Regions from separate parts of the Homo sapiens genome. Here all the other regions are linked to region 1. The links come from fine-mapping of genetic effects on gene expression. A gene starts in region 1. Each other region holds a variant in brackets. All regions are shown on one strand. Distances are from middle to middle. Region 1 holds the start of ZNF365 (zinc finger protein 365). Region 2 has its middle 40 kb from the start of ZNF365. Region 3 overlaps ZNF365 (zinc finger protein 365).

Evidence for each region. PIP is the estimated chance that this variant, and not a neighbour inherited with it, causes the effect. A credible set is the group of variants that fine-mapping cannot tell apart.
Region 2: its variant is the best candidate, but not a certain one, in a credible set for the expression of ZNF365 in whole blood (INTERVAL, PIP 0.74).
Region 3: its variant is the best candidate, but not a certain one, in a credible set for the expression of ZNF365 in T cells (TOPMed, PIP 0.77).

Annotation. Positions count from the first base shown.
Region 1 is chr10:62,367,707-62,378,277 of GRCh38, reverse strand. ZNF365 (zinc finger protein 365) reads right to left here and starts at 3,909. Exons shown (of 5, transcript NM_014951.3): 1 at 3,820-3,909; 2 at 1,342-2,097. The coding sequence starts at 2,084. LOC283045 (a long non-coding RNA gene) reads left to right here and starts at 3,151. Exons shown (of 4, transcript NR_104162.1): 1 at 3,151-3,407.
Region 2 is chr10:62,410,601-62,418,628 of GRCh38, reverse strand. It overlaps a transcript of ZNF365 not described here. Among named protein-coding and RNA genes, the nearest start is that of ZNF365, 40 kb to the right of the region's middle. The variant A/G (reference allele first, on the strand shown) is at 4,056.
Region 3 is chr10:62,398,149-62,408,719 of GRCh38, reverse strand. It overlaps ZNF365 (zinc finger protein 365), which reads right to left. Exons shown (of 5, transcript NM_014951.3): 4 at 9,943-9,980; 5 at 6,270-9,192. The coding sequence ends at 8,931. Among named protein-coding and RNA genes, the nearest start is that of ZNF365, 29 kb to the right of the region's middle. The variant T/C (reference allele first, on the strand shown) is at 3,194.

The sequences.
Region 1 (10,571 bases):
AGGCCTTTCTTTACGCATAGAGTAACCACATCTGCCCTTTTTTCAACAGCACAGTGCGGGTCACTCTGGTGGCCATTAACGGGTCTAGACACTAACTTCCCACCAGGAAACACCAGAAACCAAAAGGGAAACATTTTTCATTAGAGATTATTTCCCTAGGAGCAAAGTAAGTCAGAGGCTGATTCAAATCCATCCTAACTACGTAATTTAAAAAATGTCTCGCCTGAACAAAAAATGTCTAGGCTTCCCCTCAAGGTAGAACGTAAGCATTTAAGTGATAGCAAGTAATGATCTCTTTAATCTATGGAGTGTCTCAGGAAGTTCTAATTATTACATTTTAAGAGACAACACAAAATAGAAGAGTGCCAGAGGGCAAAGAAAAGATGAAATTAAATCAATCTCTATAATAGAACTCAAATTATTTGGAAACCTACCTTTTAGGATGTTTTACTCCATCAATTTTAATGTCCTTTGATTCCATGAATTTCTAAACCTCTATTTAAAATGAAATCTGACATTCTGCATTTGGGAAATACACTGACTTGTAATGTACACTTTTCTAGTTTGGGTTAAATCTATACTTACTGATAAAGAAATGCTTCTCTAAGTATGATGATTTCTCAAGCAATAGCTTCTATGATCTATAACTTGTGAAAACCAATCTCAACTCTTTGCAAGTGGGCAAAACTTAAATATAACAAAAAAAAATACATCATTTGCCAAAAAGTCAAGTCTCAAACTTAAATCATAGAAGTATAGCAATATCAGAAAGTCTTTCCTCTGGGTGCCCTAATGTCTGCTTCTCCCAAATATAAATTAAATTAAATGGATTCTCAGCTACTAACATTTAATTAACCTGGGCAGATAATACAAAATGGCAAATAAACCAAACTTATTTATACTGGAGGAATGTTTTTGAACTTAAGACAGCATCTTGCATTGACTTTATAATACGGAGACTGTCAAGAATGAACAGCTCACTTAGCTCACCCTTTCTGCCTTCCCATTCAACTCACCCTTGCACGCCATTTGGTGCTAGGAATGGATCCCACCATGGCTAGGCTGTGCTAGTCTTCTCTCTAAAAGCATAGTCTGTGGTTTACAAATTCCCAGTTGAGAAGGAATTAGATATTTGACTTTAATGCTGCTAGGTTGCAGACCGTGCACACAGAGGGTAAATGATATCAAAGCCTTGTTCCTCCTGGTTCAACTATATCAATAAGAAATGCAGTCAAGGCACCTGCAAATAGCAAAAATCAACCTTGCTTAGCATTTGCTTGTAAGGCGATTGGGGTGCTGCTTAAAGCAATGGGGTTAGCATCCCCTGTCAGCAACACTTACTCTTCTTTCCTAAGAAGCTCCTCCTCAGATTCCGTCAGGCGTTGCCTCAGTACAGCTATCATTTCCACGGCCACGTCCACCTGTCTGTTTAAGGCCCGCTCTCGTCTCTGAACTTCCTGCTTTTTCTGAGTCAGCTGCACAAAAGCTGCCCGAACTTCCAACAGTTCCGCAGTTTTCTGGGCCAACTCTTTGGTGAGTTTATCAATTCTCTTCTCAATGGTCCTATCCACAGCCTCAACCATTCGATTGAATTTTTCTCTGACATGTGCCTCGAAAGAAGCTTTGGTGTCTGAGGTGGGCAGTCCAGGACCCGACCGTGTCCCATCCAGCGAGTCTGCATGGAGGTCCATGGCAGTGTAGGTCTGCACATAGGACACAGGCCTCTCTGCCACCACCTCAAATGGCTTCCTGTCCTTGGAATGTTCATGTGAAATGCTGTACAAGTTAACATAGCTCGGTTTCTGCTTTACCACGTTGCCACTGCTCTGCAATTTTCCCGGTTTCAGGAGTTCTGAGGAAGTGACTAGGTCTGTGTCTTTGAGGGATGGAAAGAGACTGCATTTTGTCAAGAGGGTTCTTTCTTCGTAGCTGTGACTGAACTCCAGATGGGCCCTCAAGGATGACAAGCTTCTAAATCTGGTATGGTCTCCACACCTCGGGCAGCGTAATGGCAGGCACACAGCAACATTCTCAAAGGACTCCTGCCAGGGATATCTGCTTTCCTCAAAAGCCTTCTGTTGCATTACTCTAAAAGTCCTGGGAGGGGGGAAATAGGTAGTTTACAAGTCGGCTGAAAAACACACTACTAAAATGATTGCTGCTCATCTCCATGACAGCAGAGGCTTTTTGGTTTCAAGTGACTTTTGCACATAATATTTTATGTTGCACTTAAAACCTACAGCCCATGGGCCAAATCCATCCACATCAATTTCTGCATTATTTACTGCTGCCGTATCAATTTCTGTATTATTTATTGTAAACCACAATGGCAGTGGTGAGTAACTGAGACAGAGACTCTATGCTCCTAAAAGCTAAAATATTTACTACCTTTACAGAAAAAGTTTGCCAACTCCTACCTAGAATCAAAAAGGTGGGTAACATTCCCTCTCCACAGAAGAGAACACTGAAGCAAGGAAGTAAAGCCATTAATCCAAGGTCAGATGGAAAGTGGTAGATCCAGAAGTGGAATTCAAGTTTCCTCCCCTCCTGAATTTGGCACACTAAATGCAAAACCGTGCCCCATTTTAAGGATACAATCCGAGATGCGTGAACACAAGAACATATGAAAACTCACATGAATTGTCAAAATGGGTCCTAAGACAGCAAGCTCAGGACCTATCCTCAAGTACAGGAAAGATTACTCAAGCTATGCACAGTGGCATTAAGCCTGCAATCAGCTGAAAATTTTTCACCCTGAAATTTTTGCCTTTTTTTCCTTCAGGTATTGCTGTGATGACATAAACCAAAGTGCTAATCGTAACAATAACAGACCCCATACGTGAGTTTCACTGAAACCTGGGGACCCAATGTGTCAAATACCATTTGGCATAAGTGGGGCCATGGCCAAGATTTTTATTATAATAGAGTGTTCTGGACGGATTTGTCTTGTCTCAGATGCTATTTTATATGACAACCTCTAGGGATGGTCAGTGTGTGAACCAGGTAGGTATCAGCATACTCTCTTAATAACAGGAAGTTCTGGTTTCCTTGTAGGAATGCATTATCTTCACCCTAGCAACAGATGACTGTTGGCAACCCAATTCTGCAAGCAGTGCATATCTTCTATTCCTCCATGAAAGGTTTCTACTTAAATGTAACAAGCATTGGACCCGAAATGAGGGAGCCCAGCTGGGGTCTTTGGGTGAAAAGTGTCCTCAACCTCTTCAAAAGCAGAGGTGCAAATGGTCCCCAGGCAGCGAGGCAGGCAAGGCTTCTAGGTGAAGCCCCCGGCCCCCAGAGAGGGGAACCTCTTCCTGTGATGGGTACACCGGGATGTTTAACCACTGGTTTTCTGGGAACGAGATGCAAACCCTGGCTCAGCATAGGGCCAAAGACGCTGACAAGAGGTAAGGAAAGGGGAAGTCAGGATTCTAAGGGGGCAATGGGAAAAGGGTGGCATTTTGGATGGGGAAATGGGTAATCACACACTCCAGAGCACGCAGGCTTTTATGGGCCCAGAGGAAACCCAGTCCACTGGGCTGATGAAGAGCCCTAAGTGACTCTGCCAGAGAAGGGCAGGCTGGCAATGACCCTGCCCCGGGGTCCCAGCTCTCCCCGCCCCCTCTCCGCTGCGTGCCAGCCCACGGGTGCCAGAGTGGATTCGTGTGCACATGAGTTCCTGCTGGTGGGGGCCGGGAAGCCGGCTCTCCCAACTCCCCGCCATGCTGCGGGCTCGGGGACCCCCTCCCCAGCCCCGGCCACCCCGGCAGGTCCCCTCCGCCGAGCCGCGGGCGCAGATGGCCGGCGGCCGCCTCTTACCCGACTTGTTGCTGCTGCTGCTGCAGCCGCCGCCTCCGGTGCTGATGCTGCGGGAGCGAAGCGGTTTTCAGCAGAGCCGTAAATCAGACTGAGCCGGGCCGGCTCCCACTCCCCGCCGCACCTCCGCGCCGGGACCGGCGGCGTCCAGGGCGGAGCGAGGCGCGGCTAGCCAGCGGGGGCGGCGCTCGCGGGCACCGTGGGGCACCGCGCCGTGGGTGCGGGGGTTCCGGAACGCCGCGGCCCAGGGCTGCCACCTCCGCGGGGAACACCCTTGCTCTGCCCAGCTGGCGGGAGCATCATCTGCCCCCCCGCCACCCAGCCGGGAGCCCGATCCGACTCAGGATTACACTGACATCACTGCGAGAGATGCTGGGATCATTCCCCGGGGGAGGGAAGGAAAGACGCGTGTCAGCCTCGCAGTCGCGGCGCTTTCTGCAGGCCCTGGCAAGCTTTTTTGCACTAGTTTGGGGGGAGCGGGAGAGTGTGGATGAGGATGCAGCATAGCTGGGCATCTTCTTTGAAAATCTACCCGTTGGAAGGTCCGGGTATTTAATTAGGACCTCTTCATCCCAAGCAGCAGGGCGAGAATGTCCCAAAATAACTAACCCAGAGAGTACACTCCAGCCTTCCTAGCCAAGTGTCCTGAGGCTACGTTAACAGGCAGAACTAAATCTAGTAAAGTGCAGGGATTAATGAACAAACAGTTAAAGCAACAAGATCCCTCACCTACACCCCCATTTCTGAGGCGGACGCCCCTTTCCCTGGAGAAAAAATTTGTCCTCCTAAAGAGGGGATGTCCTGAAGAGAAGACGGCAAATCATTCCTTCTGAAGGACTCTGATGTCTCAGCTTGCTGGGCTTTTGCTTTTTTTTTTTTTTTTTTTTTTTTTTAACCTGTTTTGGTTTACCCCTACTGTAACTCCTGAAATGTGAAACCTAGATAAAAGTTACTGCTGGGTTTTCTTGTTCAAAGAAGAGAAGAGATTCTGTTCATCTGTAGACAGTTAATGCATCCTCTTGACTTCTCAGGGTGTCTTTTCTCAAGGCTTGCTGTTACTCATTTCAACACCCGATTTTATTTTAACGGTAAAGAGCTCAACAGTTATCTTAGTTGAAATTTTGTTTTGTTTTTGACAAATGAAAACAAATGAATTGCTTTGTTTTTTCACAAATGAATTATCACATCAAATGCAATGAAGATCCCAAGCTCTGGCATCAGACTTGATTCAAATCCTGGTTCTAGGGCCTGGGTCAAGTAACTAGACTTTTCTGTTCCTTCAATTCCTCATCTATGAAATGAAGATAATCAAGACCTACCTCTTAATATAGCGGTGGATCGAATGTGCTATGATGATGGAGGTAAAAACCCTGCCTGACAGGGACACACACTGATAAAGTCAGCTGTTATCGTTGTTGCTACTTCATTTATAATTATTATTAATTCCATAAAAAAGGGGCCTACACACATTTAAAAAGCAGGAAGGAGAAGAGGAATTAATATGTACTAACTTCTACGTAAATGGAGATAGGCTATTGTGCTGGGGTGTGTTTGCTTTGAAAATATTATATCTCATTGAAGTTACTTTTTGACTCGCTCTCAAGACTATTCCAAGAATCAATTTATTTAGTACAAAATCTTAAAGTCTGAAAGATACACTCATTGGAGTGCCAAGTTATCTCCGTCATCTTGTGAGGTGCCTGCAGGTTAACCTCTTACACCCACTGCCTTCATGGCAAAACATAACAAAAGCATGCTCTGGTCCTCCCTTCCCCCCCGCCCCTTTTTTTTTTTTTTTTTTTTTTTTGAGACGGAGTCTCACTCTGTCTCCCAGGCTGTAGTGGCGCGATATCAGCTCACTGCAACCTCTGCCTCTTGGGTTCAAGCGATTCTCCTGCCTCAGCCTCCCTAGTAGCTGGGATTACAGGTCCCTGCCACCACCCGGCCAATTTTTGTATTTTCAGTAGAGACGGGGTTTTGCCGTGTTGGCCAGGCTGGTCTTGAACTCCTGACCTCAGGTGATCTACCGGCCTCGGCCTCCCAAAGTGCTGGGATCACAGGCGTGAGCTACCGCGCCCAGCCAGCTCCTCCCATTTCTTAGACAGCTGCTACTTCTTTTTTGGTCCTAAGTTCCTCCCCTGTTAAATGAGAGGATGGAGATTTTCAAAGTCCTTTTCTCACCCTAAAAATATAAAATATTATCAAATAATTATGGAGAGGTTATTCTGTGCAGGGCCTAAAGCTGAGTATTGTGGGAAATTCAACTTGGTCAACAGGCATTTAGGACCTTAAGTGGTTCTCAAAGTGTCACTTGTGTATACCACCAATTACCTCATTTAATCTTTGAACACCTGTGAGGTAGGGAGGACCTTGTACACTCAGTTCTAGCCACCTTGGCATCCCTTTACTTAAGAGCCCTGCTTTTTCCCGTCTCTAGGGCCTCTTTATCTGGTAATGCCTACTCATCCCTCAGAGCTCATCCCAAGTATGCCCTCTCTGAGGAGGTCTTCCCTGACACTCCTGGACAAGGTTAGTGCGTACTAGGAAAATTTATTATGACAGGATTTGTCACAATAATTCTATGTGCTGGGTTATGGATGTAGTTGTCTGTTTAATATTTATGTCCACTGTTAAGTTGTAAGCTATGTGAGTCAGGGTCCTTGTCTGTCTTACTCTCCAGTATATTCCCAGGACTTAGCACAGTGCTGATCAAAGTGCTCAAAAAATATTTGTTAAAAGAATGAATGCTGAAGAAATAAATCCCCTTTCTACATAGGAGGAAACAGGCCCAAAGAAGTTAAGTAACTTTCTCAAGATCACAAACCTAGAACACATTACAGCCAGGATGGCAAACCCTGGGCTTTTAACCACTGTACTCATTGGCTTTCCAGTTTTTGATGAAGAAAATAAAGTTCTAGGAAGTAAAGTGACTTGCCTAAAGTCATATAGGTAATAAAGAATAAAATCAGGGTTAGAGTTCATGTCTTCAAACACTGATGTTTTTCTATGCCACATTATGCTGTTTTACTCTGCCCTCCAGGCACTTACAACTAGTGGAATGAGAACAAGGCATATATATATGATAGATATATGAGATATATATCATATATATGATAGATATATGAGATATATATCATATATATGATAGATATGAGATATATATCATATATATGATATATATATGAGATATATGATATATATATCATATACATGATATATATGATATATATATCATATACGTGATATATATGATATATATATGATATATATATCATATATATATCATGTATATGATATATGATATATATATGATATATATGATATATATGATATATATGTGATATATCATATATATGATATATATATGATATATATGATATATATGATATATATGATATATATGTGATATATCATATAGATGATATATAATATATGTGATATATATGATATATATGATATATATGTGATATATATGATATATATGATATATATCACATATGATATATATCATATGTGATATATATGATATATATCACATGATATATATCACATATGTGATATATATGATATATATCACATGATATATATCACATATGTGATATATATGATATATATATCATGTGATGTATATGATGTATATGGTATATGTGATGTATATGATGTATATGGTATATGTGATGTATATGATGTATATGGTATATATGATATATATGATGTATATGGTATATATGATATATATGGTGTATATGATATATATGATATATATGGTATATATATGATATATATGATATATATGGTATATATATGCATATATATGGTATATATATGATATATATGGTATATATGGTATATATGGTATATGAGCATATATATGGTATATATGAGATATATATGGTATATATGAGATATATATGATGTATATGATATATATGATATATATGATGTATATATGATATATATGATGTATATATGATATATATGATGTATATGATGTATATATGATACGTATCATATATATGATATATATATGATACGTATCATATATATGATATATATATGATACGTATGATATATATGATATATATATGATACGTATGATATATATGATATATATGATACGTATGATATATATGATATATATGATATATATCATATATATCATATATATCATATATGTATGATATATATGATATATATACTATATGGGATATATATGGGATATATATGATATATATGGGACATATATATGAGATATATATATGGGACATATATATGAGATATATATATATATGGGACATATATATGAGATATATATATATGGGACATATATATGAGATATATATATATGGGACATATATATGAGATATATATATATGGGACATATATATGAGATATATATATATGGGACATATATATGAGATATATATATATGGGACATATATATGAGATATATATATATGGGACATATATATGAGATATATATATATGGGACATATATATGAGATATATATATATGGGACATATATATGAGATATATATATATGGGACATATATATGAGATATATATATATATGGGACATATATATGAGATATATATATATGGGACATATATATGAGATATATATATATGGGACATATATATGAGATATATATATATGGGACATATATATATATAGAGAAGTTAAATATATGTTAAAATGAATTAAATGGGAAGTGTCTATAGGGCCTGACATCATGCCTGGCACATAGTAGATGTTCAATAAATGTTTGCTGAATTGTTAATGATCATAGCTCTCACCTTTAGAGTAATTACAATGGATCTTACTATATTAAATGTTTAGGCACATATCCAGTGTTTCTCAAAGTGGGACCTGTGGAGCCTGTGGAGCTGGTCAAAATGCAGATGTCTGGAACCTTGACCTAATAAATTGAAATCTGTAGGTGTGGATCTTGAAGATCTGCATTTTCACCTATCTCCCCAGGTGACTCTCATGACCACTGAAGTTTGAGAAACAGTCCTTTGTTACAGTAACCAACGAGGCAGACATTGGCAGCCGTTTATGCACAAGAGAGGATGCTGCTGGAGATGCGATGAATACAGCTGAAGGTCATGCCACTAAAAAGCATGAGAGGTAGTAAGAATTTGAAGCTAATTCTGACTCCAAAAGCCTGGGCTTTTTCCATCATGACTGTGAAAGGAAGGGTGGTGGAGAGGAAAAGAGGTGGGCAGAATGGAAGAATAGGTAGGAAAAGAGACAGAGAAAGAGGCAGAAAGGAAGTGAAGAAGAAGGGGAGGAAGGTCAAATGATTAATATAGAATATAGATTTCCTTGAGACAGCAAAGAGCCCTTCAGGCTGGGATAGTTAGAGAATCTCTGCTGAAAGACCTAGGAATTGAATGGAGATTTTTTAGCTCCCTTTCCTCTCCATTTATCAAATAACATTCACCCCTTGTGGCCAGAACGGCTGCCTTTCAAATACAGGTTTGAAAGGTTTGAACCAGAGAGGCTGTTTAAATTTTTTTGATCCATTTATTAAATATGTTGATTACATTTGCTGAAAAGCAGCCTTATGGGGACTGAACACAGACCCTCTAAGATTTGAATAATTGCCCCAGATAAAGGGCCTGCAAGGGGAACCCAGAGCAGATTCCTGCTACTTTTTCCATGTCTGCAGCAAACATCTGTGTGCAGAAGGAACCCCCTGGGTTGCAGAGCTAATAAGTGGCCTAAAGATCAGACACAGTCCTTTGGAATCAGGCAAATGATTTCTCACACAGAGTGTCAGGTAATTATGAAAATCCAGAGCTACACCACTTCCCAAGGAGGATATGATAAACTTGCTCCACACTGACTTAAGTATTGACTTTAAGTAACAGCTCAGTTCTCAGCTGTTAGGTTTTCCAGCTCCCTCATGCAACTAATTGCATATATATATTCATTCTGACTTTCAGCAGGTATTATGGTATGCCTACTATGTGCCAGTACAAATCACTTGCATCATTTAAGCTTCAGAGTCAGAGCTGTAATCTGGCTTTAAAGTCTTCACCAGAATACTCAACTAGAAAACTCTATTTCTATTAAATTTCGTTGTCATGGCAAGCACAAAGCAACACCATGGAGAGTGCCTTAGATCCCACAGCAGTCTGTTAGCCAGTGTGAATCTGCAGGGAGTAGGCCTTCTATAGGGGCTAAAAATAGAAAACTTACAGCAAGGTTAAACCCCCCACCTAGGAAGAGCAGTGTTACTTGTTCCCTTGGTGGGGTCAAACATGAACCAAATGAGAGGATGGGCTAATTTTCTACTTTGCAGGTTTCTCCAGCCCAGTGCCTGAACTAAGAATGTGCAGACCCAAGATCTAATACCCTAATTAGTTGTGTGAGTTTTTATTCAAGCTGGCCAACATCTCTGGGCTTCATGTCTTCGTTTGTAAAAAGCAGGAGCTGGAATGAACTAAGGACTTTCCAGTACCACAATCCTAGTTGTTAGTCCAGTTAATGCATTTGTCATTTCTGGCTGGACACCGTGGCTCACGCCTGTAATCCCAGCACTTTGGGAGTCCGAGACAGGTGGATCACTTGGGGCCAGGAATTCGAGACCAGCCTGGCCAACATGGTGAATCTCCATCTCTACTAAACATACAAAAATTAGCTGGGGCGTGGTGGTACACAGCTGTAGTCCCAGCTACTCAGGAGGCTGAGGCATGAGAATCACTTGAGCCTGGGAGGTGGAGGTTGCGGTGAGCCAAGATCGTG
Region 2 (8,028 bases), 42 kb before region 1:
CTTGAAGCCTGATTTTTTTTATTACGAAAATTTATTATAAACATCTAATTGACTTTTTCTAGAATCATTTCAAAGTTAATTTCCCTAAAGCTATAACAGAGAGGAGACATCCTTATGCTGTCTCAGGCACCCCTTCTGATTGGTTGCTGCACATCACTTCTTTTTTTGAAGAGAAGTCATTTTAAAGATAGATTATGTGGCACCTAGCTCCAGAAACTCCATTCTGGTTTGGTCATTTCACACAATGGCCTCCTATAAACTTTGTTTAAAAACTCCAAACCTGTTTTTATCCATTAGAAGGGTAAATAAGCCCCTGCGTCTAACTTATTCAATTCTAACCAGCCTATTTTTTGTGAACTCCAAACCATATAAATATTGACAAAATGTATGTGCTTTTTTATGTCAAAAAAAGAAATATTGACCAGGGTTGAGACTTTCATTTTGATGTTCAAATATCAATACTATAAGATAGACCACTTAAAATTATTCCTGATAGTAAATATATTAGATTCTATTTTTTATTCCTTTAGTTGTTTGTGCATTTTTGTCATTATTTTTCTATATTTTCAATTTTTCTACATTTAAATTGTTTATTATGTCCAAAATGAAAATCATAAAACAAGGTAATTTAAAGTCTTAGTTCCATTCTTGTCCCCTCCTTCCTGTTCTCTCACTCCCTTTAGAATTAACTATTTTTATTAGGTTTTAGTTTATCACTTCATTGCTTCCTTTTGTAAATACATGTGTATTTCCTTTTTCATATATATCCCTTTCCCTTTCACACAAAAAGTCAGTCTTTTTAAGAAAAGCAAATTTGTTACTTGTTGTCAAGGAGCTTGAAGAAATTAAGAGACTTGAGAAAATTAAGAGACTCAGGCTGTATTCCATGCTACTCTCTAGGTGATTCCTGGAATGTCACTCTATTGAACATGTTTTAGTTTCCCCAAGTATTAAAAAAAAAAAGACAGGAGATTAAAGATCTCTAAGTTCTGTTCATTTCTAAGGCAAAAATAAAACAACAAAATTTGAGCCGTGGATGTTGAATCACATCTAGCTTAAGTTGGAGAAAGAGATCTGAGGAATATTAGCAAGTGTCCCAGTGGTTTTATTTAGATGAGCTGATTTTCATTTCTTCTCATTTTCTATGCCAACCCTTTAGAGGTAAAGCCTGCAGGAATGAACTGTAGCTGAACCAAACACGGCATTAGCAAATTGATGAGAATGGACATTTTGTTCATTTTTATAGCAGGCTCTGTTTATGAAAGACTATTAAATGTTTTATCCACTGGGATCATTACCAGTATTTTAAAAAATGACTGCTAGGGCACAAAGTACTGAAGTAGTCTACTCCAAACACTTCAGACAAGATGCACAGTAATAATCAGCATTAGGCTGATGCAGGAGCAAACGTTATAATGACACAAAATAAGGAGAAAGAATCACATGTTTAGTTCAAGTACATTCAAGTCGTTGAGGACAAATGTTGGAAATTTTTAGGAACAACACAAGTGGTCATTGGTAAACAAAGTAAGTATACTTTCTGAGGTTATTTCTCTTGAAAAGGAATATATATTTTAATACTATTTCCAGTAAGTCTTATGCTAACAAAATAGCTCTATCAGACCTCAAATAATCTGAAATTCTCTGGGTTAGTGAATTACTGAGAAACATGCCTTCAAGGGCCCTTTAATTAGTTTGGAGAAGTACATTAAATTATAGTAATACAGGTTAAGCATCCCAAATTCAAAATACTAAAATCTGAAATACTCCAAAATCTAAAACTTCTTGAGTGCCAACATGACACTCAAATGAAATGCTCACTGGAGTATTTTGGATTTCAAGTTTTCTGATTAGGGATGCCCAACTAGTAAGTATAAGGCTAATATTCCAAAATGTAAAAACAAACAAACAAACAAAAAACACCAAAATCCAAAACACTTCTAGTCCCAAGCATTTCTGAAAAGGGAGGCTCAACCTGTAACTTCATGTTCTACAATTATGTGTCTGCTCAACTCTCTCCGCCTCAATAAGATTCAACATGAATAGAAAAAGCTATTTTGAGCTGCAAAGGATCCATGACCTTTCAAACATCTTTAATCCATCCATTTTTTTCTCATTTTCTGTCATCAAGACATTCGAAAAATAGGCTATCCATTTGAGATATCAGACATTTGGTTTTGAGATTCAGTATTAGGAAAACATGGGAACATTTCACATGAAAAGCATTCTTCAGAGAATGAATACCTAGAGAAAGCACTTCCCTTTCTTTTGTTAGGAGAACATTAACTTGGGTACAAATCACTCTTTTACCAAGTTATTTCTTGCATTTGGCTTTCTTTGTGTTCAGCTTATGCTGAGTTTTAGTTTCATCGTTTTTTTTTTTCTGGTAATATTTTATCTGACCAGGTAGAAGTTAAGACACTTGACCTGTGTAAGGACCTGTGCTGAGGGAGGAATCAAGAGATTTGCACAGCTCAGAGGTGAGGGCAATCTAAGAAATAGAATGCAAAGGTGAAATCAAAATGAAAAACCAGGGAAATTATGTGACTGAAGTGTCAATCCAAGAAGCAAGATAGGAACATCCAGTTCTGAGTAGAAGGGGAATAATTTGTGGCTGACCAATGCCTCCTTCAAGAAAACTATAAACACGGAATAAAATATAGATTAACTCTCAAAAACATCAGATAGCTGTTGAACCAAAGAGGACAAGAATGGCTAATTTTCTAAACAGGAGAGAACCTCAGAAAGGTGAGTTGGTAAGAGGCAGTCACTTTTTCCTAGGGGCATTTGCAAATTTTAACAAATTGGCAATTTAAGACTTTCCCAGACTGCTGTTAAAACTAAATACCAGCAAAGTATGTGGTCTTGAGGGTCTGTAGAGAATTGAAGATGAGGAGCCTCAAACACACAACCCTTCAAGACCTCTGCCAATTTCAGAAGATGTGAGGGCAGGAGATTGAAAAGTTAAACAGAAAACATATGAAACACAAAGTAGCATGCTTTTCATGTACTTATGGTACTAGAGAAATAAGAGTAAATTTTAGAACTTGCAAGCTAAGCCCAAAACCTGAAAATCAGAAGAGTTTTTACTGTTTCATAATGCTAATGAGATCAAGATTAGATTCTTCTAGAGAGAGAGAGAGAGCCCAATGAACACACCAAGCATTCAGCTGAAAACCCTAAGAAACAATATCGTAATAACAGGACCAAATAAGAGGTAGACTGAGTCTTACCAAAACTAAACATCAGCCTCAACTCAGTTCAAACCCTAATCACTTTAAATAATCAGTCTTAATTTTGTTTGCCCAGTAGTGGAAAGGGCGAACACACTGGGGAGAAAGAAAAAGTCATCTGGAGCCTATATAATTCTTACATGCAGTGATCAGCATTTGGTTAAAAAAAAAATTTTCCACATGCTGAGAGTGAGGACTATGTTACTGAAAACCAAGAGGGAAAAAAAACATGCAATAGAAATAGAGCCACGGGTAACCTAGATATTGGAATTAGCAAAGACTTTTACTGTAATTAATATGTTCAAAAAAATAAGGAAAATACTTTTTAAAATGAGGAATTTCTCAGAGAACCGTAATCTCTAAAAACAAATCAGACGAAAATTTTAGATTTTAAAAATGTAACATCTGAAATTATGAGTTTGACAGTGATTAGACACAGAAGACAGGATTAATAAACCAGAAGAATGGTCAATAGAAAATATTCAAACTGAAGCACAGAAAGAATAGGAATGGAAAATATAGAAAAAGCACCAGAAACGTGGAACACAGTGAAAAGGCATAGCATACATATAGCCTGTATCCCAAAAGGATAGGAAAGAATGAGACAGAAGAAATATTTGAAACGATAATAGCCACAGATTCAAGAAGCAACCACAAGCACTATGAATACAAATAAAATCACACTTAAACACATCATAATAAAACGGCTGAAAGCCAAAGGCAAGACAAGGAGGAGAATTTGGGTGTGTAGCAGAAGGTTAGAAACTAGGGAGATGCCATATGAACAGAAAAAAAGAAGATGCATTACCTGGATGATCCACC[A/G]GGTAGTACAATTGGCAGAGTATTTCAGAAATGGAGCTGAAAACTTGTAAGAATAAAGCTCCAGATAGATGGCCAGACACAGTGGCTCACACTTGCCAGCACTTTGGGAGGCCAAAGTGGGAAGATTGCTAAAGCCTAAGAGTTTGAGACCAGTCTGGGCAACATAGTGTCTCTATAAAAATTAAAACAAAATTAAAAAAAAAAAAGAATTAGTCAGATATGGTGGTATGACTGTGGTCCTAGCTACATGGGAGGCTGAGGTGGGAGGATCCTCTGAGCCCAGGAGGTTGAGGCTGCAGTGAGCTCTGATTGCACCATTGCATTCCAGCCTGGGTGACAGAAAGAGATTCTGTCTAAGAAAAAAAAAAGAGCTAGATAGGATAATTTTGAGCTTCATTTACAGTTCACTTGTGCTAAGAAGCCTAAAAACAATGATTAAAATCCTAAGCAATTTTTGCACTAATTAGAGTCACAAAGCATTTCTTCTCTATTATATCCAATAAACTAATATATATAATTTATTGGCTGAGAAACACTGTAAGTTTTAGGAAGTGTTTGCTTCTTGCTGGTAATCCTGAATCTATGAGGACTGCTACCTGTGACTCTTTCAGTCAGGAGCCCAGCCTTTGAAAAACTGAACCAAAGAAAGGAAGATCTAGTGAGTATATCAGTGTCATCTACAGGCATATTTCTGTTTCACGTTGTTTACAAGAATGATTCAGAAGTTTTGATAGAGGATGGTGAAGAGAGGGCCAATATTTGTATATTGGATGGCTCCTCCTCTTATTTCTGGTTAAAAACCTCTGCTTCTCGTGGTGAATGCAAAGGAACCATCCAAAAATCCTATTAAGATGCAGATTCCAATTCAATAGATCTAGGGTGGGACCTGGTATTCCTCATTTCTAACAAACTTCCAAGTGATGCTGGATACTGCTGGACTACAGAACATTTTTAAAAGTGAGGTGTTAGGTACACCCTAAATCATCTAAAATTTGACCACTCTGGCAGACAGTTGTGAATTGCCTTAAGACAGAGGGTCAAAAGTTTTCCTAAGAAGACAGAGGGGTGCTCAGTGATTGTATTTTTGAAGCGTTTACTATAATATTATTCTGAACAGTAACTGCTGTGTTTGCAGAAGACGTTAATGCATGTTCCCTTAGAAGAAACAGTTCCATGGTCAAATAAGTTTAGGGAGCATTTGCATACTTTTTTTCTCCTCTAAAAGATTCACAATGCACATTTTCATTGTCGTAATGCTGAACCGTCTGCAGTAGGGAAATATGTTTAGCCTGACAATTCCTTTATTTAACTAGTATGAGTCGGAGGAACTAGTGATACATGGAACACACTTTGGGAAATACAACCACATCATAGAGCAGTAGTTTACGACTTTGGTGTATATCAGAATTAGTTGGAGAGCTAATAGAAAACATCAGATGCCTTTGTATTTTTACTTTTACTAAATTCCAGAGGTAACTGTGATACCCATCAGGGTTTTAGAACCATTGCTATACAGTAATCTCAGAGGAGTTTTTGTTACCACTTGAGGAGGGAGAGTTGCCTATTAGCCAACCTTCTCTCTTTCCAACTTGCTCTGTCAAAGTCCATGCTATCCCTGGGAAGACCAGCATCAGCTATGAACTGCCTTCATTTAAGGAAGAGCATTCAGATCAGATGGGGCTCAATGGCAGTTTTGTGGGAATAGCATTGAATCTATAAATTACTTTTGGTAGTATGACCATTTTCATGATATTGATTCTTCCTATCCATGAGCATGGAATGTTTTTCCATTTGTTTGTGTCCTCTCTGATTTCCTTTAGCAGTGGTTTGTAGTTCTCCTTGAAGAGGTCCTTCACTTCTCTTGTTAGCTGTATTCCTATTCTTGTTGTAGCAATTGTGAATGGGAGTTATTCATGATTTGGCTCTCTGCTTGCCTGTTGTTGGTGTATTGGAATGTTAACAATTTTTGCACATTGATTTTGTATCCTGAGACTTTGCTGAAGTTGCTTTTTAGCTTGAGAAGATTTTGGGCTGAGATGATGGGATTTTCTAGATCATGTCATCTGCAAACATAGATAATTTGACTTCCTCTCTCCCTATTTGAATACCCTTTATTTCTTTCTCTTGCCTGATTGCCCTGGCCAGAACTTCCAATACCATGTTGAATAGCAATGGTAAGAAACAACAGACTTGCCTTGTGCTGGTTTTCAAGGGGAATTCTTCCAGCTTTTGCCCATTCAGTATGATATTGGCTGTGGGTTTGTTATATATGGTTCTTGTTATTTTGAGGTATGTTCCTTCAATATCTAGTTTATTTAGAGTTTTTAACATGAAGCAATGTTGAATTTTATTGAAGGCCTTTTCTGCATCTATTGAGATAATCTTGTGTTATTTGTCTTTAGTTCTGCCTATGTAATGAATTACATTTATTGATTTGCATATATTGAACCAACCTTGCATCCCAGGGAAGAAGCCAATTTGATAGTGATGGATAAGCTTTTTGATGTGTTGCTGGATTCGGTTTGCCAGTATTTTATTGAGGATTTTTGCATTAATGTTCATCAGGGATACTGGCTTGAAGTTTTCTCTTTTTCTTGTCTTCTGCTAGTTTTGGGGTTTGTTTGGTTTAGGTTCTCTAGTTCTTTTAATTATGGTGTTAGGTTGTTAATCTGAGATCTTTCTAGCTTTTTGATGTGGGCATTTAGTGCTATAAATTTACCTCTTAACACTACTTTAGCTGCATCCCAGAGATTCTGGTACATTGTCTCTTTGTTCTCATTAGTTTTAAAATTCATATGAAACCTAAAAAGAGCCCAAATAGCCAAGACAATCCTAAGCAAAAAGAACAAAGCTGGAGTCACCATGCTACCCAACTTCAAACTGTACTACATGGCTACAGTAATGAAAACAGCATGGTACTGGTACAAAAACAGACACATAGACCAATGGAACAGAATAGAGAACTCAGAAATAAGACTACTCAGCTGCAACCATTGAATCTTCAACAAACCTGACAAAAACAAGCAATGAGGAAAGGATTCCCTATTTAATAAATAGTGCCAGAAGAACTGGCTAGCCACATGCAGAAAACTGGAACTGGATTAATTCCTTGCACCTTATACAAAAATTAACTCAAGACAGATTAAAAACTTAAATGTAAAACCCAAAACTATAAAAACCCTAGGAGAAAATCTAGGCAATACCATTTAGGACATAGACACAGGCACAGATTTCATGATGAAAACACCAAAAGCAATTGCAACAAAAGCAAAAATTGACATGTGGAATCTGATAACTAAAGAGCTTCTGCACAGCAAAATAAACTATCATCAGAGTGAACAGACAACTTACAAAACGGGAGAAAATTTTTGCAATCTATCCCTCTGACAAAGGTCTAACATCCAGAGTCCACAAGGAACTTAAACAAATTTACAATAATAAAAAACAAACAATCCCACTAAAAAGTGGGCAAAGGGCATGAACAGACACTTCTCAAAAGAAGACATTTATGCAGCTGACAAACATATGAAACAAAGTTTAACATCACTGATCATTAGAGAAATGCAAATCAAAACCACAATGATACACTGTCTCAAGCTAGTCAGAATGGCAATTATTAAAATGTCCAGAAACAACAGATGCTGGCAAGGTTGTAGAGAAAATGGAACACTTTTACACCGTTGGTGGGAGTGTAAATTATTTCAACCATTGTGGAAGACAGTGTGATCATTTCTCAAAGATCTAGAAGCAGAAATACCATTTGACATGAAAATACCAAAGACATGGAATTAACCCAAATGCCCATCAGTGATAGACTGGATAAAGAAAATGTGGTACATATATACCATGGAATACTATACAGCCATAAAAAGGAATGAGATAATGTCCTTTACAGGGACATGGATGGAGCTGGAAGCCATTATCCTCATCAAACTAATGCAGGAACAGAAAACCAAACACCACATGTTCTCAC
Region 3 (10,571 bases), 30 kb before region 1:
TTGGGAGGGGAATCTTATTTACTGGCCCATATATCCCCCAACAGATGCTGTTAGTATTTGTTTTCTGACACTCTCTTTTCTAAGTCTCCGTGTTTAGCCAATAGTCTCAAATAAACAAATATATTAAGTACTGACTCTGTGCCAGGTATTATGCTAAAAACCTTATATGGATATCTTATTGAATCTGCACCATGATCCTGAATACAAAGAGAGACAATGAGGCTCTAATCGATTAAATAAGTTGCTCAAGATAATAAAACTAGTAAGTGGCAGAGCCTGATGTCTTTCTTTAGATATGTTAATACCTATCTGTTTCTATTAGATAGGTTAATATCTTCAAACAGGTTATAGTCAGTTCTTTACCACCATTCAGACTGTTTAATGTAACTTAATGATTTTCTGCTTTGAGTTCATTAAACGTTGCCCTTTGTTTTAGTACACAGGGAAGAATCTTGTTTTTCTATTTTCAAGTTCTTGATTAGAAAGTTATTAGGGGAGAGAGAAGACTTCATGGTTGTTCCCATGTGCTTTCCACATGGCCAAGGCAAGACATCATTCTATCTATTTTCCAGATGAGGAAACTGGACCCACAGTCAAAGCAGATGTAAGTTGTAAAGCAGGATGCCAAGATCAGTGCCCTTTCAACTGCACCATTGTTGAGGAAGGGCAAATAGATTGTGATTTGTATGCTGACTAGCTGGTATACTCATTTTCTATGGCTGCTGTAACAAATTATCACTAGTTTAGTGGCTTAAACAACACATAGTTATTATCTAAAGGATTCTTCCAAAGTTAAAAGTTTGGGTAGGTAGACATTCTGCCTACCACAGCTGGTTAAGGCTGTGTTAAGAAGGATTCTGAGGCTATGTCTGTGTTCATCAGGAAAGATAACCCTGGCCAATTAGCAATGTCTACCATGGATTCAGAAGGAAATACCATGTATTTTCTATCTTACCATAGATGCAGGCTAAAAGAAGGAGAGTATTAAAATACCTACTGATAAGGCTTTAGGACCAACAGGTTCATATGCCTTCTACACAGTAATAGTTCAATACACTGAGACAGCAGGGTTTGCAGCAGAGAAAGACTTTAACAATCACAGGGCACCGAGTGAGGAGAGGAGAGGAGAGGAGAGGAGAGGAGACCCTCAAATCCATCTCCCTGATTTTTCCTGGGCTGGTGTTTTTAAGGGGATCAGGGACAGTGAGGGTCAAAAGTCAAAAGTTTTCCTAAGAAGGGTAAAGGGAATGTGGGAACCGCATTCTTTAGTGAGTCAGCTTCTTGTGGGGTCCTTCAGGCAAGCAGGTGTCAGTAGTTTCACTGGTACACAGGACCTGAAGGAATATCTCAAAGGAAAAGCTTAATGTTTTGTAGTGTTTGAGTTTTTATCTATACAGCAGTTCAGGGGAGCTATAGTCTTACAGCAGGGTCTGCATGATTCTGGGGCAATAGGCCACAAACCACTATGGGGAAGCAGGTCAGAGGGCAAGCTGACCTCATAACAAACACTGACAGTGCTGCCAGCTTGGTTTATTTTTGTTTCTCCCCTCCATGCTTCTCTGATTAATTTTATAAAGTTTGTAGGAATGGCTTCAATAAGAGGAGTGACAGCCAGTTTGTGGGCTCCAGCCCTTGCTGGAAGGACCCTTAGAAGCAGAAGCAGAGTGCTCCAGTGCTCTGCCTGGTTCCATACTGTTGTAGTTTTTCTCTTCCTGGAGCTGGAGATACTTGACCCTCTGGCAAGGTGAGCCCCTGCCCAGGTTCCAGGAATGATGCTGTCTCACTGGATCTCCTGAATCTCTACACAGCGGCAGGCCCAGTGCTAGGTGCTGGAGCATCAGGGTAGATACAGTTCTCTCACAATGGGATACAACACTACAGGATAGCTGCAGACCTGAGGGGCTTACGCTTAAAATGGGAGACAGACTGGCCAAGAAATGGATATTCAAGGAAAAATTATGTTACTTCCCAGGGTTCACTTGTCCTATGCTTTCTACCTCCATGACCACACTCAGACTGCCTAAAATGCTCTGCTGTTTTGCTAACTCCAATCCTGTTCATTCTGCAAACACTACTTCCTCTTTGATCCTCCCCAGCTGGAAGAAAGTCCATTTTCTCATTGTAGTTTTCTTTTTTAGCATATCTGAGGCCACTGATGTTCCCATACTCCACAAATACCTTATTGAGGACCCACCCTATGCTGGGTACTGCATCTGGCACTGGGGACATACTAGGGATAAAAGGTACAGACTTGGCCCCTTTTTATGGAAATGACAGAACAGTGGGGAAGGCAGATATGAGTCAAGTCATCACACCATTAAATATTATAAAGGGGCACCTAGAATCAGTCCTACAAGGAATAGGTACATGGTATTCTGAGAGTTATGAAGCTGCCTTGGAAGTGACAATTGATCTCAAATCTGAAGGCTGAACAGAAATTAACTAGATGAAAAAGAAAGAGAAGTCCATTCCAGGCAGAAGACACATGTCAGGGAAGCAGTGCATGGAGAGAGCTCTGCTCTCTCTGAAAGGAAGGCAGTGGCTGGAAAGGAGCAAGAGGTCTGGTGCTGGCTGGAGTGGAGAGACAGGCCAGAGCCAGGGCATGCGGGGCAAATTCAATGCTTTGATCTTCGTCCCAATAACTAACTGTGTGTCCACTCCTCTTGCCCTTACCCACTCTAAGCTCCTCGGGTATCCCTTACCCTTTAAGAATCTTGGTTCCCTCTACCAGATCTCTGTGTTTAGGACTATATGAGAAGTGTTAGCTATAATTTCAAGCTACAGGCACACTTAAAGATAAAAATAAAGTACATTCCTGAGAATGGGGAAGTGGGGTTCACCCTTGAACAAATAATTAGGGCTTGGAAAGAGGAGAGGTTGAGATATAAAACCATCTTTCTGTTTCTGTATGATATACTCAACCAAAGTGAACAATGCCACTTGTTAGTCAGCAAACAACCAATGTGAAATGTCCACAAACATATGCACTAAAATCTAACAGACTTCAATCTGAGACTTCGAAATTCCTTGGCAAGTTGGGGTCCTCATCTCTAAAGGGTGGCAGAGGTCTTGAGCTTACAGAGTGGCAACGTCTATAACTCCCATAGTGGCTTGCATAGGTGCAATAACCAATCATAAATGTTAAACAGAATTTTAGGACACTGAGAACTTTTATGTAATCAACAAATGCATA[T/C]AGGATCATTTTTTGGAGTTTTGTCAATGAGGAGGCAGAACACGGTGAAGGAGCATTGGCTGAGATGTAGAAGGACAATTCCTTTTTCTCACTCAAGCTCTGTCACAGAGGCGTTCCTGGGCCCTGGAAACCCTTTCAAGCCATCATAAGCCCCCCTCTCATTGCAAAATGTGATGATGTCACCTTCTTAAGTATATTCATAAGAAAGGCAAAAGCTGAAGAATAATCAAAACTACCTGGAAAATGCCTGAAGAAGGCACGATGCTGGAGCCTGACATGACACACACCATCTCTAAGTCCAACATTGCCAATTTATCTTCCAGTGCTGGAAAGAACTGCTGTTGATTTAACTGAACACCAGATGAGGTTCCTGGCTTGCATTCAGGAGCCATGTTGTAACAAAAAATGTACCTTCTCTTTAAACACTGAAATCACATTCAGGGAGGTGAGATGCTTCCGTTCCAAGAAGCACATCATCCTGAGGTAATAGTACAAGATGTACATCTCCTGTTTCCCCAACTGCTGTTTCTCCACCTGCTGAGAGTAGAAAATTGTACCTCCTCAGCCCTACTTGCTTCAAAAGGATTCTGTAAGGATAAATATGGGTGCGTGTTATCTTTGTAACTTTACAAAATTTACAAACTTTGCAAAGCCCAAGTCAGTGAAATAAAATCTCCAAAATCAAGTTACCATGTTGACACTAAGTTTTATGTGGCCAACATTTACATTAATGTAACATCAATACATATATAAAACAATAGAATCCCAAGACTACAAGTATTTTTGGAAGAACCCAGCCCAATTCCCAACCCAATGTAGAATCCCAATCAAAAGTTACTCATGGATTTTGAATTACGCAGGAGTCGGTGTCCCTAACCCTTGCAATGTTCAAGGGTCAACTATAAGGGCAGACTAAGGTCACCTCTCAAATAACTCTCACAGCCCCTAAGCAAATGGAGTCCCCTAAATTTTCCTGATTTCATGGTTCTAAAAAGAACAATGGCTGAGAAAAGGAGTAGCTAAGAGAAAAGTAGTACTCAAAGGAAATAGTAGCTCAGAGACAGGGAGCTCGCTTTTTAACTAGGTGACCTATTCCGTTGTGCTTAGAAATTTTACATTTAGTAATTTGACATCTGCTTCCTCAGAACTTTCTCTCACAGATCTCAGTAATATCTTTTGCAGCCACACAAAATATGTATTTTTCTATGTGATAACACCTCAGATACTTAAGGGCAGCAATAATCTCTCCTCTTCTCACAGGACATTGGTACCAAAGTTCTCATTTACCATCCTAGGCATCTACCTCCACATATGCAAAATGTATCAGTGTCCCCATTACAGGGTGGGAAGGAGAATCTAGCCTGCCTATATGTGAGGTTCCTCTACTGGAAAAACTCTTCCATCCTGGAATAATAGCTGAAGATCCAGAGTAAATTTAACATAGGGCTATAGTTCGAATACTCTTTTCTTAAATGAAAATTTCAGTTGTGTTCTGACCCAGAACATGAACAAAAAAAAGGAACACAAAAGAAAAAATTTACTTAATTCCACAAAAAGGAATTCAATTTCTAAAGCTCTTCATCATTTAAACATTTGAAATTGCTCCGGGGCTTCTTTTTGGGATCATGCAGGCATGCCACCCCTGGAATTCACTTCTGAAGGATCCAGATTGAGCAGAATCAAGATATTGGGATTTATGTTTTCTAATAAACTGAGATAATCAGGAATGTCACAGCTATTTCTCAAAAACACTATAACCTGGGGAACCCATTAACCTTGACATAACTACAGTTGACTCTTGAATGATACAGGTTTGAACTGAGTGGGTCCAGTTCTTTTTTTGTTGTTGCTGTTGTTTTTGTTTTTTTTGAGATGGAGTCTCACTCTGTCACCCAGGCTGGAGTGCAGTGGCGCGATCTCAGCTCACTGCAAGCTCCGCTTCCCGGGTTCACGCCATTCTCCTGCCTCAGCCTCCTGAGTAGCTGGGACTACAGGCGCCCGCCACTGCGCCCGGCTAATTTTTTGTATTTTTAGTAGAGACGGGGTTTCACCATGTTAGCCAGGATGGTCTCGATCTCCTGACCTCGTGATCCGCCCGCCTCGGCCTCCCAAAGTGCTGGGATTACAGGCGTGAGCCACCGCACCCGGCGGGTCCAGTTCCATCCTGATTTTTTCTGCCACCAAAGGTAGCAAGACAAACCCTTCCTCCTCCTCTTCCTCCTCAGCCCACCCAACGTGAAGACAATGACGATGAAGTCCTCTATGATGATCCACTTCCACTTAATGAATATAACTGTATCTTCTCTTCCTTATGATTTTCTTACTAACATGTCCTTTTCTCTAGTTTGATTGTAAGAATACGGTAGATAATACATTTAACATACAAAATATGTGTTAACTATGTTATCAGTAGGGCTTCTGGTCAACAGTAGGCTATCAGTAGTTAAGTTTTTGAGCAGTCAAAAGTTACTCATGTATTTTGAATTACGCAGGAGTCGATGTCCCTAACCCTTGCACTGTTCAAGGGTCAACTGTAAGTGCAGACTAAGGTCACCTCCTGAATAACTCTCACAGCTCCTAAACAAATGGAGTTCCCTAAATTTTCCTGATTTCATGGTTCTTAAAAGAACAATGGCTAATTCCACCAGACACATACTTCTCTCTGTTATCTATTCTGATCACTCTCTGGGCTTTGCAATGTCTTGGATGTATAGCATATACAGGCTGGGATATATACTGTGAAATCTGTTTATGAATTGCTAAGAGATGACAAGTTTAAAAATACAGTGTAGGAAAATTACTCATGGTTGTGGAGGAAGATGGGGAAAAGTGCCAAATGGGGCTTTTAATGAAGCTGTCTCAGTGTGAACATATGTAAAAATAACTTTTAGATATAGGAATTATGATGAACAAAAATGATCTAGCTAAGTTAAGAAAACCTATAGGTACACAAGATCCTGGTGATTATATGTATGATGAACAGCTTATTCAGGAAGGACCATTTTGTTTCCTGTTAGTGGATCAACATACTTGGCTCCCCAAAAAACACTCCAACTAGACAAAACATATCAACACATTAGTCAGAAATATAGCTTTATTATCATAATATTTCATAATCTAAAAACTTCTTTAATTCTGGAACAGAATATTCCAACTTCTGTACAACTGACTGGCCCTGCAGAATACTGGAAAACAATGTCTAAGCAACTTGAACCTTGCAGATAAGAACCTGTAACCTAGTTTGGGAAAAAGGGAAAAAGCAAGAAAAGCGGTTCAAAGGAAGATTTCTTCCCTACAAGACAAATAAAATTAAATCTACTCTCCATTTCAACCTTGAACATAGTTTCCCAGAAACTTTGGTGATTTCTTCAAAAAAGCAACCGCCTTAACTCTAAGGTCAACGGCCCATGTGGACAAAGAAAATATTTAAAAATAAGACACAAACAGGACATGGTACTTAGCTCAGGCCATGGTATGTTAAGTGGAGTATGCTTCTGAGTAAGCCATCTCCCATGTTTTGACACTAAATTTATGTCTCTAAGGAGGCACAACATACATAACACATTTCTTTATATGGGGTCAAAATTTAGTGGGAACGTAAAAAAACATTTTAATATAATAAACAAATCTCAAAATAATTCGTCTTGTGAAATGTAGAGTAGGATGACATTATGGTACTTTCTGAAGATCATGGGGTACCACTGTCAAAGAGAGTTGCCATGCCCTCTATGTTAGATGAAAATCCAAAATGTCAGTTACTTTAAATAAAACAGAAACAAGTTGTCATTGCACACACATTACAGGACAAAGAGCATGCAATACAACTAACAAGTCATGTTTTTAGTATGTAAAAGGCTAAGGTGCAATCATGGTATAAGCATCAATAATAAATAACTTTAGAGGGGGAAGTTAATTCTCCAAATAAATAATAATTATAACATTACAATTTTTACAATGTTAGCCTAAACAGTGCTATTCACAGCAATGTTTTTGCCCACTTGATAGCTGCTTATATATCACATGAATGATCTACCCCCCCCATAAACTGAAAGTCAAAGTGAAGATTCAAGAACATTTTCATTATGGTAGGTTCAGAATGTTTGTATAATGATAAGTTACACTTTTCAATTGACTGGCATTTTAAGCAACTGCTTTATTTCCTATTTTTAATGCGCTGCTAATTTGATGCTTATTGCAGTAACAATCATAATTCTGCCAATGTTAATTACGTTACAGTTTTGATTTTTTAAATAAGAGAATTCAGTTTACATGAACAAACATATATAGTTTAAAAACCACCCACCACAAACACACACTTTCTCCATGAGTATTTAAAAATAAATTATTAATATACTTAACATATATATTTTGTATGTGTTATATATATGTATATATGTATATATTTGTGGACAAAATTATTCCTGTTTTCAGAAGAATGTCAGCACTTGTAAACTCTGCAAGAGACCTGATGATATTGCTAAATTTAAGGAAAAAATAACATGGAAATTCATTCTTGAGGAAAATCATACAGCAGGAAATTCTTAACAGCTCTTTGTGGAAACTAAAGCCATTTTAGGGAGGGAAGGAGGGGAAGACAGTGTCAGATTCTGGCTCCTACATGCATTGTTTATTTCAGAAATTACTTTAGAATGCAACATAGAGTGAACACTCCAGATACTTGGTTGAAAGATACCTGAAGCCCTTAACAGGGCACAGAAGCAGCAGGAGGCAAAGTGAACCACCCAGTGGAAAAGTTAAGCCAGCGAAGAGAAAGTCATGCCCATAGCAGAGAGAGAGAGGGCCACTGACACTGGCCGGGAAGCAGGTCTTAGGAAAGGGCTTGGCGACACCCGCAGTGCTTCCAGGATGGTCACGATGCACGATGCACCAAGCGTGCAGTCCACTGTCATTCCAACCACCTAGCCACCCAGCCCATGCTGGGTGCTAATCAAAAGAGGATTTTACTTCGCTCCCCAGCCATATCCACAGAAGCAGCTATTAAGATAGAGGCTGGCAGCATGGTCTGTGGGTGCAGAATACTCAGCCAAAGAAGACGGCAGAGGTGTACCAAAATCTGAATAAACATGCATCTAGGCCACCAAAAAACCTCAATCAAACAAACGAACTGAAAGACACCCTGTCGGAATGAGAACTGAAGTCTGACTGAACGAGTCCCTTGAGCAACCCAGAAATTGAAATCTTGATTAACCAGAATACTCGGGGAATGGGAATCCTTATTTTGGAGGCTTTCAAATTAGCTGAGGGGAAGGTTATACACAAACACAAATATTTTCATTTTACTGCTATTAACAGAACTTTACACTGCCATTCCTTGCCTCGCACTTTGGAGAGCAGTGGGCACAGATGAATTTTCTCCCTAGGCCTGACATTTTGTGTGGCCTTGGTCCTGAAAATTAGTGACCACTGCATAGAAGCCCAGATGCCAAGATTACTGGAGACTGGGCCAGTTACTTTAGAAGTTAGAGCTTTAAGATTGATTTAATTTTTTTATTCTTTCTGTAATTTGCAAGCTTCTAAAAGGGGGTTATAATAAAATTCTGGTTCACTAAGATTCCCATTTGCTAAGCTCTGGTTAATTGAGGTGCTTGCCTGTGTTATGCCCTTGGCTTTTCCAATGTGTCTTACTATGGAATGTTTCCAGAAAGACATTACTGTTGGCTCCTGGAACAACGTTCCCCAAAGCCCAGCGATGATTGGTCCAGCACCACCCACCCTTTTAGATGATGTTCACAATGGCTGTTGGCTTTTTTTTAGCCATTTTGGGCCTGATGTTGCCTTTGCGGCCAAACCCCAGGAGCTCCCCTTTCTTTGGAGGTCTGCAGAGGTCTCTTGAGGACTCAGCCTGTTCGTGAATGGCCTTGGCAGGCTGCATGCTGGCTCTGTCATCCTTGGCCTTTTTCAGGTGGTTCCTTCCCTTTGGGTGGAAATGGGCCTTGAGATCAGGGTGGTTACATACCGAATGCGGGTGCCCTCGGCTTCTACAGAGGGTTGGAGGGGGGAGTGGAGAAGAGATGAGCAGAAAGAAAGATTTCTTTAAAACCTTAAAAGAATAATTACTCATGGCACAATCTCTCCTACATGCTACAGTGGTGATAATGCTACCACAAAGGCAAATCATAATATGAGTATTTTTCTTCCAAAAATTCCTGTGGTCGCCATGAAAAGATCACATGGTACTAAATTCCCAGGGAGATATTACTAGTTCTATTTACAGTGATAAGACTGAGGTATAGAAAATGTTAATGACTACCCCGAATAATACAGACAGTTGGTCTATGGAGAAGATGGGACCAGAACTCATGTCTCTTGACTTGTTAAGTGACGACTAGCAGACTCAGACAAATTCACTGCATAGATGTTGTAAAGCATATGACTGCCAGGATGAATTTACATAAACAATGTAGTACATGAACTACATTAATAGTACTATAGAGTTATTATGACCACACTATACCTCAATAAGAGAAAGTTATACTATATAATACTCTAAAAATATTCCTCCAGTGCCATCATAGTGGTATATACTAATAGACTAGTAGGATATTGAAAGGTCACATCAACTTTTCACAAAGTTAGATACACATGCAGGTCAGTTTTCACTTAAGCCTCCCAAAGCCATTTATAATATAGATATCATATAAAATAGATACGATCTCATATAAAATGCAACAGGAAAACATACAATACAAACATTATCAAATGGCCCAAGTATAAAAATACATACATACAGGCATTTGGGCTTCCTATTTGAGGAGATGTCTGTAAGCTGAAGGAAAACAAATAAGAAAAAATGTTAACTGCATTTGAGGACTGGATTTGGTTTTTAAAATATTTCTTATACTTTCTAAAAACTGCATTCCCATTAAGGGAGTCAGTGACTGCTACTGGTAGCACGACCTGCAGCACCATCCATTGCATCAGTGAACAAGAACATCTCATGCTCAGCCTTTGCTTGCTTACTCCAGGAGCCTCTGTGGGCACTTGTTCTAAGATTTCTGAGAAGTCTATGTCAGCAGATCTCAAAAATCTCAAACACGCAAAAGAGCCCCCCAGTAGAGCAACATTTGAAGAAATATGTTTCCAAGTACTGGAATGCCTTTGCATCCTCATAGCTTAGTTCCCACTTGCAAGTGAGAACACAAGATACTTGGTTTTCCATTCCTGAGTTACTTCACTTAGAATAATGGCCTCCAGCTCCAACCAAGTTGCTGCAAAGACCATTATTTCATTCCATTTTATGGCTGAGTAGTATTCCATGGTTCACATATACCACATTTTCTTTATCCACTCGTTGGTTGATGGGCACTTAGGCTGATTCCATATTTTTGCAGTTGCAAATTGTGCTGCTATAAACATG